Linked DNA regions of Homo sapiens: all the other regions are linked to region 3. The links come from fine-mapping of genetic effects on gene expression. A gene starts in region 3. Each other region holds a variant in brackets. All regions are shown on one strand. Distances are between the middles of the regions. Region 1 overlaps VSIG10 (V-set and immunoglobulin domain containing 10). Region 2 has its middle 23 kb from the start of LINC02440. Region 3 holds the start of LINC02440 (long intergenic non-protein coding RNA 2440).

Region 1 (6,148 bases), 690 kb before region 3:
CAGCCTGGGCAACATGGCAAAACCCCATCTCAAAAAACACCAAAGAATTTGCCAGGCGTGGTGGTGCAGGTAAGTAGTCCCAGCTATTCAGGAGGCTGAGGTGGGAGGATCACTTCAGCCCAGGAGGTGGAGGTTGCAGTGAGCTGTGATTGTGCCAGTACACTCCAGCCTGGGTGACACAATGAGACCCTCCCTATCTCAAGAAAAAAAAGAAAAGGAAAAGCTTTGCCAAATCCTGTTCTAGAACAATCTACAGCTGCTGCCTTCCTGTTCTTTGCTGTCCTCTTTGACATCAGAATTCACTTCTTTCCTTACCCACCACAAATATAGGTTGGCCAGTCAAGAGCTGCAAAAGGTTCATTTACATCTCAGTATCTTGAATTCCTTGCTAACAGGAAAAGTTACCTTATCTTCAGCTATTTACTCTTTAGACCAGGAATTTTATTCGAAAATGACTTCAGAATGCACCACACAGTCTGTGCTAATCAGTTAATGTGTACTTCTTCAATGGGATAAGGTCTGTGGGAAGACTTACAGACTGTGATATCACCTTTATAGGCAAAATCAACAACCGACTTTCTCTTGATCTCCCTAGTGACTGCCACGCAAAGAGCCCATCCCAGAGATCTGCAGGCTCCTATAAGCACCAATCTCTGCTACAGATAAGCTTGGCAGGCCAGGCACGGTGGCTCATCCTGTAATCCCAGCGCTTTGGGAGGCCGAGGTGGGTGGATCGCTTGAGGTCAGGAGTTTGAGACCCACCTGGCCAACATGGTGAAACCCCATCTCTACTAAAAATACAAAAATCAGCTGGGCGTGGTAGAGCATGCCTGTAATCCCAGCTACTCAGGAGGCTGAAGCAAGAGAATCACCTAAACAAGGTCAGGAGATCGAGACCATCCTGGCTAACACGGTGAAACCCCGTCTCTACTAAAAATACAAAAAATTAGCAAGGCATGGTGGCGGGCGCCTGTAGTCCCAGCTACTCTGGAGGCTGAGGCAGGAGAATGGTGTGAACCCGGGAGGCGGAGCTTGCAGTGAGCCGAGATCGCGCCACTGCACTCCAGCCTGGGCAACAGAGTGAGACTCCGTCTCGAACAAACAAACAAACAAAAACAGATAAGCTTGGCAAGACCTAAATTAATCAATCCTTGGGCAAGAATCACCCCACCTTCTGACCAGGCACAAACAAGTTTTCTTCGGTGTACCCAGCATTCCCTTTCCCTAGGGGCCTACACTGTGAGAAGACATAGCGACACCACCACCAACACAGACAAAGAGCTGTTGGTGGGTCCATATCAGACAGGTCCATCAGCCAGGAAACATGGATCTTTCTGAGATTCCCTTTCTTGGAAGTTTGGACTGAAGGCCACATCACTGGCTAGAGAGGAGGTCCCCATCCCCCAAACCCAACTGAATCCTAAGCCTCTTGGAGGTAGACACAGACCAGCTTCCTCATTGCTCACGTGCGAGCTGGTTCCATTGTTCCCCAAACACTTGTTTGGCCTGAGAAAAACAGACACAGGGAGAGCCTGGCACTGTGTGCCATGAAATCTGACTGGGGTCTTTCATGGGCTGATTTATCTCTCGATAGCTAAGCTCCTCAAATGCATATATAAGAGACAATATCTTTAAGAAAAAGAAAAACACAAAGTTGGCTGGGCATGATGGCTCATGCCTGTAATCCCAGCATTTTGGGAGGCCGAGGCGGGTGGATCACCTGAGGTCAGGAGTTCAAGAACAGCCTGGCCAACATGGTGAAACCCTGCCTCTACTAAAAATACAAAAATTAGCCAGGTGTGGTGATGCACGCCTGTAGTCCCAGCTACTTGGGAGGCTGAGGCAGGAGAATCATTTGAACTCAGGAGGCAGAGGTTGCAGTGAGCCGAGATCACACCACTCCTGGGCAACAGAGCGAGACTTCGTCTCAAAAAAAAAAAAAAAAAGTTGGGCCCAGGCATGATGGCTCACGCCTGTAATCCCAGCACTTTGGGAGCCCAAGGCGTGTGGATCACCTGAGGTCAGGAGTTCAAGACCCAGCCTGGCCAACATGGTGAAACCCTGTCTTTTCTAAAAATACAAAGAATTAGCCAGGCGTGATGGCAAATGCGTGTAATACCACCTACTTGGGAGGCGAGGCAGGAGAATCGCTTGAACCCGGGAGGCAGAGGTTGCAGTGAGCTCAGATTGCACCACTGCACTCCAGCCTGGGCAACAAGAGCGAAACTTTGTCTCAAAAAAAAAAAAGCACAAAGTCAGCTGGGCACGGTGGCTCACCTCTGTAATCCCAGCACTTTGGGAGGCGGAGGCAGGCGGATCACTTGAGGTCAGGAGTTCAAGACCACCCTGGGCAATATGGCAAAACAAAACCCTGTCCCTACTAAAAACACAAAAATTATTCAGGCGTGGTAGTGGGTGCCTGTAATCCCAGCTACTTGGGAGGCTGGGGCAGGAGAATAGCTTGAACCCAGGAGGCAGAGGCTGCCATGAGCCGAGATCATGCCAGTGTGGGTGACCAAGTAAAACTGCGTCTCAAAAAAAAAAAGTGTACCAGGATATGGGAAAGGCTGTGACACCTTCCCTATCTGACCAGCCTGTCTGCAGGTAAACACATGGCTGTTCCAATATCATACCCACTCCAATTTGGAGGTAGCAGGGATGGGTCAATTGATGAAATAAACAGCTGTGTGGCCGGGTAAGATGGATCCTGCCT[G/A]TAATCTCAGCATTGTGGGAGGCTGACACGGGAGGATCGCTTGAACCCAGTAGTTCAAGACCAGCCTGAGCAACATAATGAGGCCCTGTCTCTGCAAAAATATTTGTTTAATCAATTTATTTATTTACTTATGTATTTTTTTGAGATGGAGTCTCACTCTGTCACCCAGGCTGGAGTGCAGTGGTGAAAACTCAGCTCACTGCAAACTCCGCTTCCTGGGTTCAAATGATTCTCCCACATCAGCCTCCTGAGTAGCTGAGATGACAGGCGTGTGTCACCACGCCCAGCTAATTTTTTTGTATTTTTAATAGAAATGGGGTTTCACTATGTTGGCCAAGGCGGTTTCAAACTTCCGACCTCAGGTGATCTGCCCACCTTGGTCTCCCAAAGCGCTGGGATTACAGGCGTGAGCCACCACTCCCAGCCTAAATTTAAAAATTGAAAAAAAAAAAAAAGAAAGAAAGAAAGAAACGGCGTTGGCAGCCCTTAACTGCTCTGGACCAAGGGATTTCTGTACATTTAGAAGCAGAGTCTCAATCCTAATGGCAAGACCCTTCAACTTCACCTTTCAATTAACAGGGAGCAGTGCATACTCTTGTTGTGGGATGAGTGATGAAATCACACCACGGGTGCCCATTCCAGGCAGGTTGAATTGCCCCGGGCCTACAGAAAACCTGACCTCCTACAAGACAGAGACACCAAATGCCCACCGATGGACAAGCAGAGGACCAAGGGGTAAGGAGGGAGAAATCTAGCAACCTCCCTACTTCCATTTCCATGTTTCTACAGCATCTCTGTCCATTCACACATCCCCAGCCACTTGCAGATAACAAACTGTCATATCTTGGAATTTGTTCCCCCTAGATTCCAAGGCCATGTTAGAATGTTTCCAAATTGTTCTCCTTAAGAGAAGGAGGGGGCTGGGCGAGGTGGTTCATATCTGTAAGCCCAGCACTTTGGGAGGCCAAGGAGGGAAGACTGCTTGAGCCCAGGAGTTCAAAACCAGCCTGGGCAATATAGTGAGACCTTGTCTCTACAAAAAAACTAAAAAATTAGCCGAGTGTGGTGGCACACACTATTAGTCTCAGCTACTCAGGACGGTGAGATAAAAGAATCACTTGAGCCTAGGAATTCAAGGCTGTAGTGAGCCGAAATCACACCACTGCACTCCAGCCTGGGTGACAGAGTGAGATCCTGTCTCAAAAAAAAAAAAAAAAAAAGAGAGAGAAGGAGGTAATGTGACTCAGCTAGCAACTACATCAGTGAAAAGATCTGGGCACAAAGAGTCCCTAACCCACAGCAAGACCTGTTCGAAAGACCCAGATGAGGCTGGGCGCGGTGGCTCATGCCTGTAATCCCAGGACTTTGGGAGGCCGAGGCGGGTGGATCACGAGGTTAGGAGTTCAAGACCAGCCTGGCCAACATGGTGAAACCCCGTCTCTACTAAAGATACAAAAAATTAGCCAGGCGTGGTGGCGCACGCCTGTAATCCCAGCTACTCGGGAACCTAAGGCAGGAGAATCACCTGAACCCGGGAGGCGGAGGCTGCAGTGAGCCGAGCCATTGCACTCCAGCCTGGGTGACAGGGCGAGACTGTGTCTCAGAAAAAAAAAAAAAAAAAAGGACCCAGATATAAACTGGTTGATTGTTGAGAACTTGAGATGGACTATCCCACGGGAATCCCATCGCTGGCTTAACCACTGGATCCAGTTCAAGTGTGCTGAGGGCTACATGAGTTTATCTCATTAATGCATAACACAAATCCGTAACTCCTTCCACCGTTACCCTCAATTTCACAGACAATAAAACTAACACTGGAGTTCAAGGGACTTTCCCAAGGTCACACAGACAACAACAGCTAATAGAACGTGGATTTGAACCCAGTCATCTGGACCACTCCGAAATACCACTGCCATCCCAGAAAGAGGCTGAATCAAACCTAATCTATTTTCCTAAATCTACGCAAAAATGAGGGCCAACTCCAATCAGAGATGTCACGCCCTCCCCGCTGGCCACTGTCGGGGAGCAACACAGGCTTCCAAGGCAGAGAGGAGTCTGCTGTTTAGCCCAGGGACCTCCTAAGATGAGAACCAGGAGACCAACCCCAGACGGCTCTGGTGTATTTGAATCAAAGGGTATCTGTGTCTGGTTTTCACAAACAAGCCCTACATCAGTCAAGGACCCCATGTATTTCCACGTGAAGAAATTTCCATACTATGAATCACAGCACAGTAACTAAGACATGCACAGGACTTCCCTGGAGGGAGTACAAAGTGCCACTGGAATTCAGTGACATTTTTATTCCTTTTTCTTTTTTTTTTTTTTTTATGAGACAGACTCTTGTTCTGTCACCCAGGCTGGGGTGCAGTGGTGCCATCTCGGCTCACTGCAACCTCCGCCCTCCCCGGTTGAAGCTTTTCTTGTGTGTCAGCCTCCCACGCATCTGGGATCACAGGTGTGCATCATCACACCTGATTAAGTTTTGTATTTTTAGTAGAGATGGAGTTTCACCATGTTGGCCAGGCTGGTCTCAAACTCCTGACCTCAAGTGATCCACCCGCCTCAGCCTCCCAAAGTGCTGGGATTACAGGCATGAGCCACTGCACCCAGCCATGAGTTCAGTGACATTTTTAAAGTTGCAAGTTCACGTTCATTGCAACAAGACCTTGCCTTTATCTCCCTACAGGGCAATAATGAAACTAATCCATCCTCCAATAAACTTAGCCAATGATTAACAAATCAGTGTCTGATCAAGTCATCATAAACTAAAGAGAGTGATGATAAAGAAACAAAAAGTTGCAATGTCGCCTTACCCCACTGTGGATAAAAGATAAGGTTATTCATTGATGAGATGGACAGGAAGCGATGACTAATTATTTTGGGCAGGTGGACTGAGGGAGACCAGCCAGCACTTGCCCGTAGGCTCACAGTGGGAACCAAACAGTGGGGCCAAGATGGGTGACATTTTTTAATGCACCCCCTTCATTCCTGGCATCACCCAGGAATTTATCTATGGCCTCTCCAGACACAGAAACACTGCTGTAATGGACGATGCCCTAATCTTTGAGAATTGGCAGAAACCTTAGACATCACCCAAAACCAAGAAGTGTCCTGGAAGCCTCTCTTTCCTTTATCCTCTACTTCTGATCCAGCAGCGAGTCCTGCTGGTCTCCTTCCAAAATATTTTCCAAACCTGTGCATTTTCACCAAGGCCACTGTCGCCACCCTGTCTGGTCACCGACTCTGTATACCTTCAATTCTCCCTTCCCTGTTTTATTTCATCAGCTCTTCTTGATACCAAACACATACATTTTCCATGTGCAAATGAAATGGTGCCACACCCCTGCTGGAAGCTCCCGGAGTTTCTCCTGCACACAGAATAAAATCACAACTCCTAGCCAGGCACAATGGCTCACGCCTGTAATCCCACACTTT
Region 2 (6,148 bases), 23 kb after region 3:
CTCTTTTTTTGGTTCCATATGAAATTTAAAGTAGTTATTTCTAATTCTGTGAAGAAAGTCAGTGGTAGCTTGATGGAAATAACATTGAATCTATGAATTGTTTTGGGCAGTATGGCCGTTTTCATGATGTTGATTCTTCCTATCCATGAGAATGGAATTTTTTTCCAGTTGTTTGTGTCCTCTGTTATTTTCTTGAGGAGCAGTTTGTAGTTGTCCTTGAAGAGGTCCTTCACATCCCTTGTAAGTTGTATTCCTAGGTATTTTATTCTCTTTGTAGCAATTGTGAGTGGGAGTTCACTCATGATTTGGCTCTCTGCTTGTCTATTATTGGTGTATAGAAATGCTTGTGATTTTTGCAGCTTGATTTTGTATCCTGAGACTTTGCTGAAGTTGCTTATCTGCTTAAGGAGTTTTGGGGCTGTGACAATAGGGCTTTCTAAATATACAGTCATGTCATCTGCAATCAGAGACAATTTGACTTCCTCTCTTCCTATTTGAATATGCTTTATTTCTTTATCTTGCCTGATTGCCCTGGCCAGAACTTCCAATACTATGTGGAATAGGAGTGGGGAGAGAGGGCATCCTTTTCTTGTGCTGGTTTTCAAAGGGAGTGCTTCCAGCTTTTGCCCATTCAGTATGATACTAGCTATGGGTTTGTCATAAATAGCTCTTGTTATTTTGAGATATGTTCCATCAATACACCTAGTTTTCTGACTGTTTTTAGCATGAAAGTGTGTTGAATATTATCAAAGGCCTTTTCTGCATCTATTGAGATAATCATGTGGTTTTTGTCTTTGGTTTTCTTTATGTGATGAATTACATTTATTGATTTGCTTATGTTGAACCAACCTTGCATCCTAGGGATGAAGCCAACTTGATTGTGGTGGATAAGCTTTTTGATGTGCTGCTGGATTCAGTTTGCCATTATTTTATTGAGGATTTTTGCACTGATGTTCACCAGGGATATTGGCCTGAAATTTTTTGTTGTTGTTGTGTCTCTGCCAGGTTTTGGTATCAGGATGATGCTGGCCTCAAAAAATGAGTTAGGGAGGGGTCCCTCTTTTGCTATCATTTCGAATAGTTTCAGAAGGAGTGGTACCATCTCCTCTTTGTACCTCTGGTAGAATTTGGCTATGAATCTGTCTGGTCCTGGGCTTTTTTTGGTTGGTAGGCTATTAATTATTTAATTTCAGAACTTGTTATTGGTCTTAATTTCAGAACTTTTTATTGGTCTATTCAGGGATTTGACTTCTTCCTGGTTTAGTCTTGGGAGGGTGTATGTGTCCGGGTATTTATCCATTTCTTCTAGATTTTCTAGTTTATTTCTGTAGAGGTGTTTATAGTATTCTCTGGTGGTAGTTTGTATTTCTGTGGGATCAGTGGTGATGTCCCCTTTATCATTTTTTATTGTGTTTATTTGATTCTTCTCTTTTTTCTTTATTAGTCTGGCTAGTAGTCTATCTATTTTGTTAATCTTTTCAAAAAACCAGCTCCTAAATTCATTGATTTTTTTGAAGGGTTTTTTGTATCTCTATCTCCTTCTGTTCTGCTCTGATCTTACTTATTTCTTGTATTCTGCTAGGTTTTGAATTTGTTTGCTCTTGCTTCTCTAGTTCCTTTAATTGTGATGTTTGGTTGTCAATTTCAGATCTTTCCCACTTTCTGATGCAGGCATTTAGTGCATAAATTTCCCTCTTAACACTGCGTTAGCTGTGTCCCAGAGATTCTGGTACATTGTCTCTTTTTTCTCATTGGTTTCAAAGAACTTCGTTATTTCTGCTTTAATTTCATTATTTACCCAGTAGTCATTCAGGAGAAGGTTGTTTAGTTTTCATGTAGTTGTGCAGTTTGAGTGAGTTTCTTAATCCTGAGTTCTAATTTGATTGCACTGTGGTCTGAGAGACTGTTATGTTTTCCATTCTTTTCCATTTGCTGAGGAGTGTTCTACTTCCAATTATGTGGTCAGTTTTAGAATAAGTGCTATGTGGTGCTGAGAAGAATGTATGTTCTGTTGATTTGGGGTGGAGAGTTCTGTAGATGTCTATCAGGTCCACTTGGTCCAGAGCTGAGTTCAAGTCCTGAATATTCTTGTTAATTTTCTGTCTCATTGATCTGTCTAATAGTGACAGTGGGGTGTTAAAATCTCCCACTATTATTCTGTGGGAGTCTAAGTCTGTTTGTAGGTCTCTAAGAACTTGTTTTATGAATCTGGATGCTCCTGTATTGGGTGCATATATATTTAGGATAGTTAGCTCTTCTTGTTGCATTGATCCCTTTACCATTGTGTAATGCCCTTCTTTGTCTTTTTTTATCTTTGTTGGTTTAAATTCTGTTTTATCAGAGACTAAGATTGCAACCCCTGCTTTTTTTTGCTTTCCATTTGCTTGGTAAATATTCTTCCATCCCTTTATTTTCAGTGTATGTGTGTCTTCACACATGAGATGGGTCTCTTGAATACAGCACACTGAAGGGCCTTGACTCTTTATCCAATTTGCCAGTCTGTGTCTTTTAATTGGGGCATTTAGCCCATTTACATTTAAGATTAATATTGTTATGTGTGAATTTGATCCTGTCATCATGATGCTAGCTGGTTATTTTGCACATTAGTTGATGCAGTTTCTTCACAATGTCATTGGTCTTTATAGTTTGGTGTGTTTTTGCAGTGGCTGGTGCTGGTTTTTCCTTTCCATGTTTAGTGCTTCCTTCAGGAGCTCTTGTAAGGCAGGCCTGGTGGTAACAAAATCCCTCAGCA[C/T]TTGCTTGTCTGTAAAGGATTTTATTTCTCCTTCACTTATGAAGCTTAGTTTGGCTGGATATAAAATTCTGGGTTGAAGATTCTTTTCTTTAAGAATGTTGACTATTGGCCCCCACTCTTTTCTGGCATGTATGGTTTCTGCAGAGAGATCTGCTCTTAGTCTGATGGGCTTCCATTTGTAGGTAACCTGACCTTTCTTTCTGGCTGCCCTTAACATTTTTTCCTTCATTTCAACATTGGAGAATGTGACGATTATGTATCTTGGGGTTGCCCTTCTTGAGGATTATCTTAGTGGTGTTCTCTGTATTTCCTGAATTTGAATATTGGGCTGTCTTGCTAGGTTAAGGAAGTTCTCCTGGATAATACCCTGAAGTGTGTTTTCCAATTTGGTCCCCTTCTCACTGTCACTTTCAGGTACACCAATCAATCGGAGGTTTGATCTTTTCACATAGTCCCGTATTTCTTGGAGGCTTTGTTCATTCCTTTTCATCTTTTTTCTCTAATCTTTTCTTCATACCTTATTTCAGTAAGTTGATCTTCAGTCTCTGATATCCTTTCTTCTGCTTGATTGATTCAGCTATGGATACTTGTGTATGCCTCATGAAGTTCTCGTGCTGTGTTTTTAGCTCCATCAGGTCATTTATTCTCTACTCTAAACTGGTTATTCTAGTTAGCAGTTCCTGTAACCTTTTATCAGGGTTCTCAGCTTCCTTGCATTGTGTTAGAACATGCTCCTTTAGCTCAGAGGAGTTTGTTATTACCTACCTTCTGAAGCCTACTTCTGTCAATTCGTCAAACTCCTTCTCTGTCCAGTTTTGTGCCCTTGCTGGAGAGGAGTTGCAATCATTTGGAGGAGTAGAGGCATTCTGGTTTTTGGAATTTTCAGTATTTTTGCGCTGATTTTCCCTCATCATGGATTTATCTACCTTTGATCTTTGAGGCTGATGACCTTTGGATGGAGTTTTTGTGTGGAGGTCTTTTTTGTTGATGTTGTTGCTGTTGCTTTCTGTTTGTTAGTTTTTATTCTAACAGTCAGGTCCCTCTCCTGCAGGTCTGCTGCAGTTTGCTAGAGGTCCACTCCAGATGCTGTTTGCCTGGGTATCACCAGCAGAGGCTGCAGAACAGCAAAGATTGCTGCCTGCTCCTTCTCTGGAAGCTTTGTCTCACAGGGGCATCAGCCTGATGCCAGCTGGAGCTCTCCTGTATGAGGCATCTGTTGACCCCTGCTGGAAGGTGTCTCCCAGTCAGGAGGCACAGGGGTTAGGGACCCACTTGAGGAGGCAGTCTGTCCCTTAGCAGAGCTTGAGCGCTGTGCTGGGAGAATCCTGCTTATCTCCAGCACTCTTCAGAGCTGGAAGGCAGGAAAGTTCAAGTCCATTGAAGCTGTGCCCACAGCCGCCTCTTCCCCCAGGTGCTCTGTCCCAGGGAGCTGGGAGTTTTATCTATAAGCCCCTGACTGGGGCTGCTGCTTTTCTTTCAGAGATGCCCTGCCAAGTGAGGAGGAATCTAGAGAGGCAGTCTGGCCACAGCTGCTTTACTGTGCTGTGGTGAATTCCACCCAGTCCAAACTTCCTGGCCTCCTTAGCACTGTCAGGGGATAACCACCTACTCAAGTCTCAGTAATGGCAGATGCCCCTCCCCCCACCAAGCTTGATCATCCCAGGTCAAATTCAGACCTCTGTGCTGGCAGTGAGAATTTCAAGCAAGTGGTTCTTAGCTTGCTGGTGTCCGTGGGAATGGGACCCACTGAGCAAGACCACTTGACTCCCTGTCTTCAGCCCCCTTTCCAGGGGAGTGAATGATTCTGTCTCGCTGGGGTTCCAGGCACCACTGGGATATGAAAAAACAACAACAACAACAACAACAACAACAAACTCCCACAGCTAGCTCGGTGCCTGCCCAAACAGCTGCCCAGTTTTGTGCTTGAAATCCAGGGCCCTGGTGGTGTAGGCACACGAGGGAATCTCCTGGTCTGCAGATTGCAAAAACCATAGGAAAAGTGCAGTATCAGGGCCGGATAGCACAGTCCCTCACGGCTTCCCTTGGCTGGGGGAGAGAGGTCCCCAGCTCCTTGCACTTCCCAGGTGAGGAAATGCCCCACCCTGCTTCTGCTCACCCTCTGTGGGCTGCACCCGCTGTCTAACCAGTCCCAATGACATGAGCTGGGTACCTCAGTCAGAAATGCGGAAATCTCCCACCTTCTGCCTTTGTCTCACTGGGAGCTGCAGACCAGAGCTGTTCCTATTCGACCATCTTGCCAGGTCTGTACCACGTTTTCTTTATCCATTCATCCATCAGTGGGCACTTAAATTGGTTCTATTCCTTGGCCATGTGAATAATGCTGCAATGAACATGAAAATGCAGATATCTCTTTGATATACTGATTTCATTTCCCTTGGAAATAGACCCTTTAATAGGACTACTGGATCATATGGTAGTTCTATTTTTAATTTTTTTGAGGAACCTCCATACTGTTTTCCATAATGGCTGTGCTAATTTACATTCCAGGGTTCCCATTTCTCCAAATTCTCTTCTACACTTATCTTCCGTCTTTTTCATATAGCCATTCTAACAGTTGTGAAGTAATACCTGATTCTAGTCTTAATTTGCATTTTGCTGATAATTAGTAATTTTGAGCATTTTTCATCACTCTTTGGCCATTTGTATGTCTTCTTTTGAGAAATGTCTCTTCAGATCCTTTGAATTTCTAATTGGGTTATTTGTTTTGTTACTATTGTGTTGTTTGAGTTCCTTATATATTTTGGATATTACCCTCTTATCAGATGTATAATTTGCAAATATATTCTCTCATTCCACAGGTTAACTCTTCATTCTGTTGATTGTTTCCTTGGTTGTGCAGAAGCTTTTTAGTTTGATACACTCCCGTTCTTCTAGTTTTTGCTTTTGTTGCCTGTGCTTTTGCGTTCATATACAAAAAATTATTCCCCAGACCAATGTCATGGAACTTTCACCCTGTTTTCTTCTAGTAGTTTTAGAGAGAAATTTCATACTCTTTAGTTATCACCTTCCCAAACCTCCCCCTCCCCATCAATAAGCAACTGCAAATCTACTTTTTGTCTCTATAGATTTGACTATTCTGGTAGTTTTAAATGGAATCATATAATATGTGTTTTTTTGTGTCTGACTTCTTTCACTTAGCACAATCTTTTCAAGGTTTACCCATGTTATAGCATGTATCAGAACTGTATTTCTTTTTACAATCAAATAATTTTCCATTGTATGGATATATAATACTATATTTTGTTTATTTATCCATCAGTTGATGAGTATTTGAGTTGTTTCCACTTTCTGGCTATTATGAATAATGCTTTCATAAAGATTCCTGTACAGATTTTTGCATGAACATATATTTTTGTTTCTCCTGGGTAGATCTGT
Region 3 (6,148 bases):
TCTCTTGATTTCTATTAATGGCACCAGGGTTTTTCCAGTTGCTCAGTCTTTCAAACTTGGCAATCCCTTGAATCCTAGGAGTAAGTATCCACTAGCTTTCTCTAACTCAGGATTTTTGTGGGACCTGGGTCTCAGACAACAAGTCATAATAATAATGTAACTGGTATTGATATGTTTCAGTTGAATAAGTCCATGTCAATACCATCACACATACAATTTCACTTCTATAAATATTTATAGAGCTCCTTCTCTATGGTTGGTTCCATGCTAAGCTGTGATGGTGTAATGTTGAACAAAACTCAGTCTTTAGCCTCAAGGAGTTCACAGTTCAGAGGAAGCAGATACAAATAGACACAGAGAGAAAAAGTAAAGAATGCCATGGAAACCAGAGGAACCCTAACATAGCCCTGCAGGGTCAGAGGAGAGTCTGAAAGGAACCAGAAGGATGGGCAGACCTAACTAGTGAAGGTGAGAAAAAGAAAGGGCTTTGGGCAGAGGAATGGTTTGTGCACACACTGGGCTGGGATTGGGGCAGGGTACATTGGAGGACTCTGCCCTGTTTGTGATGTAGGGGGACATCACCTTACCTCTCCTGCCTCATTTGTCTCAACTTTTAACATGCAAACAGTAGGGTCATTGTGAAAATTCAGTAAAAATCAGGACATTTCAGAACTGCAACTACTTGGTCCTCATAAATATTGATTGAATATAAATTGTCAGCAACCACAGCTCGTACCTTAATTATGGAAATAATAATCATGGTAGTGGATTGAATGGTGGCTTCCCCCCTCCCCCAAAAGATGTCCCCATGTCAAATCATCTGAACCAGTGAATGTAATTTTATTTGGAAAAGGGGTCTTTGCAGGTGTAAAGATTTCAAGATGAGACCATCCGGAATTATCTGAGTAGGCACTATATTCAATGTCAAGTGTCCTGATAAGAAAAGGAGAGGACACAGGACAGGAGACAGGCCATGTGAAGATGGAGGCAGAGATTGGAGTGATTCAGCCAAAAGCCAACAAATGCCTGGAGCCACCAGAAGCTGAAAGGGGCCAGAAAGGATCCTCCCCTAGAGCCTTTGGAGGGAGCGTGGTCCTGTTGACATGTTGATTTTGGATTTCTCCAGAACTGTGAGAGAGTACATTGGAGTGGTTTGAACCATGAAATTTGTGGTAATTTGTACAGCAGTGGCAAGAAACTGATACACATGGTTATTGATTTTTTCAAATTCTCTACCTGTCAGGTGTGGATTCCTCCTCAATGATGTTTTGAAGTAATGCTATTATGCCCATTTTATGGATAAGGACTACTAAGGCTCATGGAGGAGAAGCAACTCTTTCTTGCTCATTCGTTCACTGAATATTGACTGGCCTCTTAGCTGACCAGACACTGGGGGACAGAGTCATGGGTAAAGGTTTGCAGAGGTCTCAGGGCTTGTAAGTTTAGAGGAGGGAGAATGAATAACCATTACTGGGTTATATGAATAACCCATACTGGGTTGAATAGTGCTTCCTCTCCCCAAACTTATTTCTACCTTGGACCTTGGAATGTGACCTTTTCTGTGAAATGGGAGAGTTCCCTGATTCCCCTGGCAGGATGTGCAACAGAGGTGCGTCTTGCCTATTCAGTCACCCCGCAGCTCAAACACCTAGGGGGAGCATGCAGATGGGCAGGTGGAGAGGCTGGGCAAGTGCTTTGGGCTCTTGGCCCCACAGTAGTGTCTACGGGTGGGTGCTTGCAACCCCAGTGTTACAAAGCTCTTTCAGCTTTGCCATCTGCAGATGGCTTGAGTGTTAATCAGCTCAATGGACCCTCGGCCTTATCAGAAGGGCAGAGGGCCAATGTGACAGCTTTCTGTATCCTGAGCTCTTGCCCAGTGTCTCAGAAGAATCACATCACACAAGGGTTTGAAGGATGAATGCAAGGTTTTATTGAGTGGTAGAGATGGCTCTTAGTGAGATGGATGGGGAGCGTGAAGGGGGATGGAGTGGGAAGGTGATCTTCCCCTGGAGTCGGGCTGCCCAGCCGCTGGACTCTTCTCTGACTGGCCCCAGCCAGACTCCTCTTGGCGTCCAGACATCTCTCCTCTTCTCTCTTTCTCTGCCACTTTGTTCCACCATCCATCTGCTTGCCTCCTTGTCTCCTCGCCTGCTGGTCTGTATTCTGGAGCTTGGGGTTCTGGGCTTATATGGGGGCAAGATAGGGGGCGTGGTGGGCCAAAAGGCAACTTTGGGGGCTTGAAAACAGGAATTCCCATTCTCATTTAGGGCCTCAGGTATCCAGGCTTGAGGGTGGGGCCTTTGCTGGAGAACCACCCTCTTCTACCCAGTGTCACCCTGTCTCCTGTCTGTATCATTTGGAAATAACATTACAGATATAATCAAGTTAAGACAGGTCATTCTGGGTTAGGGTGAACTCAAATCCAATGACCGGTATCCTTATAAAATGAGGGAAATTAGGACAGAGAGACACGGAGAGAAACTCACGTGACCATGGGCAGAGATGAGAGTGATGTGTCCACAGGCCAAGGAATGCCAAGGATGCTGGCAGCCACCAGAAGCTGGAGGAGGCAAGGAAAGATCCTCCCCTGGAGTCTTCAGAGGGAGCGTGGCCTTACACACATCCTGACTGCCAATTTCTAGCCTCTAGAGCTGGGAGACAATGCATACGTGTTGTTTTAAGCCATCCAGTTTGTGGTCATCTGTTACAGGAGCCGCTGGAAACTTATACGGCATTTAAGAAATATATATGATTGTAGACGTGGAAAGCACAGCTTAGGGGGCTGTGGGAACCTGGGAAAGGGAATGGAGGGGTGGGCAGGGAAGCTTCTTCCAGGAAGGCACGCTGGAGCTGAGACTGAGGGTCGGGTAGCAGTTAAGTGTGCAAAGAGGGATGGGAAATCTGAGCCAGAGGGAAGAACAGGTGTGAAGCCTCTGGTTTGAGAAGGACCTCGGTGCAGGAGGAGTGGAAGGTCAGCGCGCAGAGGGGAGTAAGGCAGGCAGCGGTGGGGCCACAGCCTGTGCGCCAATCATGACACATTCCCGTGCCCTGCGCTTCTGGTCCCTGGCTTCTCTTCTGGGGGCTGCTGGGTCAGTATGTCTGTGCGTTCTTCACTGGCTAGGTCTGCTCACCCTTTGGGTTCCTTCCAGACTCTCCTCTGACCCCCCCACACTGCCTACCACGCGGGGCGTTTGAACACGAATTTGGAGGTCCTTGTTTGTCCTTGAACGCGGCAGGGAGTGGAGGAAGGCGCCGGGAGGAGGCACAAAATCGCTTTGTGCGACAGCGCCCGACAGCTTCTCCGCCCGGAGCCGGCTCCGCCGTGAATGGGCCGCGGACAAAGGCGTCCCCTCCCAAGTACCTGTAATTGGAGCGTCCATGTGCGCGGGCGCTGCTGAAATGCAATGGACAAAAGGGAGAGGAATGGCCGCATCTTCCGGCTGCCCGTTGCTATGGTTTCCGCGGAGCTGGTGAAGGGGAGGGCTGTTACCAGGCAACGGGAGAGGGACCAAGACAAAGGGAGCTCAGGAGAGGGAAAGGTCTGGGGCAGGTGTGAGTACGTGTGCCGTGAGGTGGGGCGGAGACAGAGGAGGATGTGAGAGAGACACCGAGGACAGAGGGAGACAGAGGGGAGAGATAAGAGAGAGACAAAGAGCAGGGAGAGGCAGAGAGAGAGAGAGAGGGAGAGAGAGAAAGAGAGAGAGAGGAGAGAGAGAGAGCGAGAGCAAGAGGGCCACATTAAAAAACAGCTAACAGAGGCTCATAGAGACAGACAGGGACACGGAGACATTCATTCACTTACTGTGTGCCAAGCCTGTGTGCTTCTGGAGACAGGGCTATTAGCAAGAGAGACACCATCCCTGACCTAAGAACTCAGAGACCCAGAGAGAAAGAATGATGCTAGAGATAGAGCCAGAGGTAGATGCTTCCCTGCCTCCCCTGGGGTGACTGGGGCTTTCTCTTCAGGCCATTGTCTCCTGGAAGCTGGTGACTTCCGGGTAGGGTGTGCTCAAAGTCATCGTACCCTTCCTCCTGACTCAGGGCAGTGTCCACAGGCAGCTCCACTCCCAGGAGGCTGTTGTACAAAGTGACTTCTGGTTGAACAATGCTCAATCTCTCCCTAGCAGCTCTTATGGCTTGCCAACTATGATGCTTGAATTTCCCGCCATTATAGTGATCGTGGATAAGTTAACTCACTTAGTAATTATATAGCAACAAAATGCTGTTAAGCGTGTTGCTCAATTGCTCCTGTATGCTAGGTATTGTCAGCATTCTCACTTTACAAGAGTGGAAACTGAGGTTCTGAGAGATGAAATATTTTACCTGGTGTCACACAGTTACTCAGTGCAAAGCCACTAAGGTCTTCTGATCTCTAGCCTGATGTTCTTCCTTCTGCTTATATCCCTGTCTGGGCCATGTCTTATTTGTTTACAAGGAACAGAAGCCTACACAAATTAACTCTAGTGAAATGAGAGCTTTATCAGAAAGACACTAAAGAGATTCCTGAGATCCAAGGGCAGGAATCAGAGCTGGTTTTCACAAGAAACTCCACTGGGTACTACAGAGAGCTCAGAAGTCATGGAGACTATTCTTTCTATCTCTTTCTGAGACCTCCTGGTGGCTCCTCTCTGCTTCTGTCTGCACACTGCTCAGTGCCAAAAATGCCAAAATGACCTTCAAGGAAGTCTTTCTTTTCCAGTTTACATTTTCAAGAGACAGCCTGATTGGCTCACTTAGATCAAGTGTACAGTTCTGATCCAATGAATTCTGGCCAAGGGTCAGGCCCCTAGCATACAACATGAGTGGCCAATTGACTTGTGGCCAGTTCTTCAGCAGGGGCTGCCAAAACAGGTGCTGTGGATGGGACAGACATCATGAGTTATCTATGTAAACTCACTCACTTCTATCCTGGGGATACCAAGAGTAACCTTGCCTGCCTTCCAGGGCTGTTGTAAGGAGCTCATACTTATCGAAGGAGTTTGTAAAGTGTTAGGTGCCACAGAAGACCAAGTAACTACATAGGTTAAATGGTAGTATCTGGATGACAAAACCGTATTGTCCTTCTTCATCTTCTTTGCCAAGATCATGGCCCGAGGCCAATGGGGCAGCATGCAAGAAAGTTGTTATTGACAAGGGAGTGAAGAAAGGAAGAGTTCAGAGGATACCTGAGCTAAAGTGTGTACCATGATGAAATGAAAACGACGAGGAGGATGTTATTCCTCCATTCTCTCACTCACCCATTTAGTAAGCCCCGTGAGCCTACAATGTGCAAGAAACTATACAAGATGATAAAGATACAATGGTGAAAAAGACATGGCCTCTGTTCTTCAGGGACTCAAAGGGGGTGAGGCACCAGGCACATAACCTGCCAGATACTATGTATTTTAAGATGTGCTATGAGAGAGATGTAATGGTATCAGAGGAGGTGACTTAACTCAGACAGCAGCACCAAGGAAGGTGTTGTACCAAACACCTGTCAACTCCAACTGAAATGGCACTGTGCCCTGGAGACAGTGAATGAGACCTAGGGTTTACTGGAGGAACTTAAATACAGGGACATTTGATGCTCAAATGATCTCATCTTTGGCTAGTGGAAGACTATTAAAGTTGGTCCTTGAGTTCTCTAGAAATAACCCTAATATATCAACAGCTTTCTCATACTTTGGTATGATAATCTTTTCAGACTTATCTTATACATTTGCTACTCAAAGCCAGAGTCAGCCATTTCTCCAAGGAGCTCAGACCTCTTTGAGTGGGAAAATGGTATTTGAGACCATCATCTGGGTGGTGGGAGTGCTCACTGCTCCTGGGTTTGTTATTGGCTCTAGGTCTTTTAAGAGGACAGTTAGAAAATGCATACTTTTTAGGAGAAAACACATCATGAGTTTATACTGATATTTCTCATTCAAAATCAGGATACAGTGTTTTTCCTTTGATCATATATCTCTTTTCAACTGAAAACCTTGATTTTTAATGACATGAAATTAGGTACTCATTGCTTTATTTTACAATACAAATATATTTTGGAATTGCAATAACAATATTATTACTAAAAATATCATTGAAAAAAGATTATCAGCTAGGATTTATTCAGTTTCTGGCTTTGTGCCAGGCATGATACATATATCATATTGCTTAATCCAAAAAC

What was found.
Region 1: its variant is fine-mapped to the expression of LINC02440 in amygdala (GTEx, PIP 0.96).
Region 2: its variant is fine-mapped to the expression of LINC02440 in hippocampus (GTEx, PIP 0.98).

Annotation. Positions count from the first base shown.
Region 1 is chr12:118,083,924-118,090,071 of GRCh38, forward strand. All of the region lies in intron 2 of VSIG10 (V-set and immunoglobulin domain containing 10), which reads right to left. Among named protein-coding and RNA genes, the nearest start is that of VSIG10, 17 kb to the right of the region's middle. RefSeq lists an enhancer at 1,444-1,986. The variant G/A (reference allele first, on the strand shown) is at 2,714.
Region 2 is chr12:118,794,598-118,800,745 of GRCh38, forward strand. No RefSeq gene overlaps it. Among named protein-coding and RNA genes, the nearest start is that of LINC02440, 23 kb to the left of the region's middle. The variant C/T (reference allele first, on the strand shown) is at 2,753.
Region 3 is chr12:118,771,125-118,777,272 of GRCh38, forward strand. It overlaps LINC02440 (long intergenic non-protein coding RNA 2440), which reads right to left and starts at 3,481. Exons shown (of 3, transcript NR_183608.1): 1 at 3,362-3,481; 2 at 2,487-2,651; 3 at 1,907-2,178.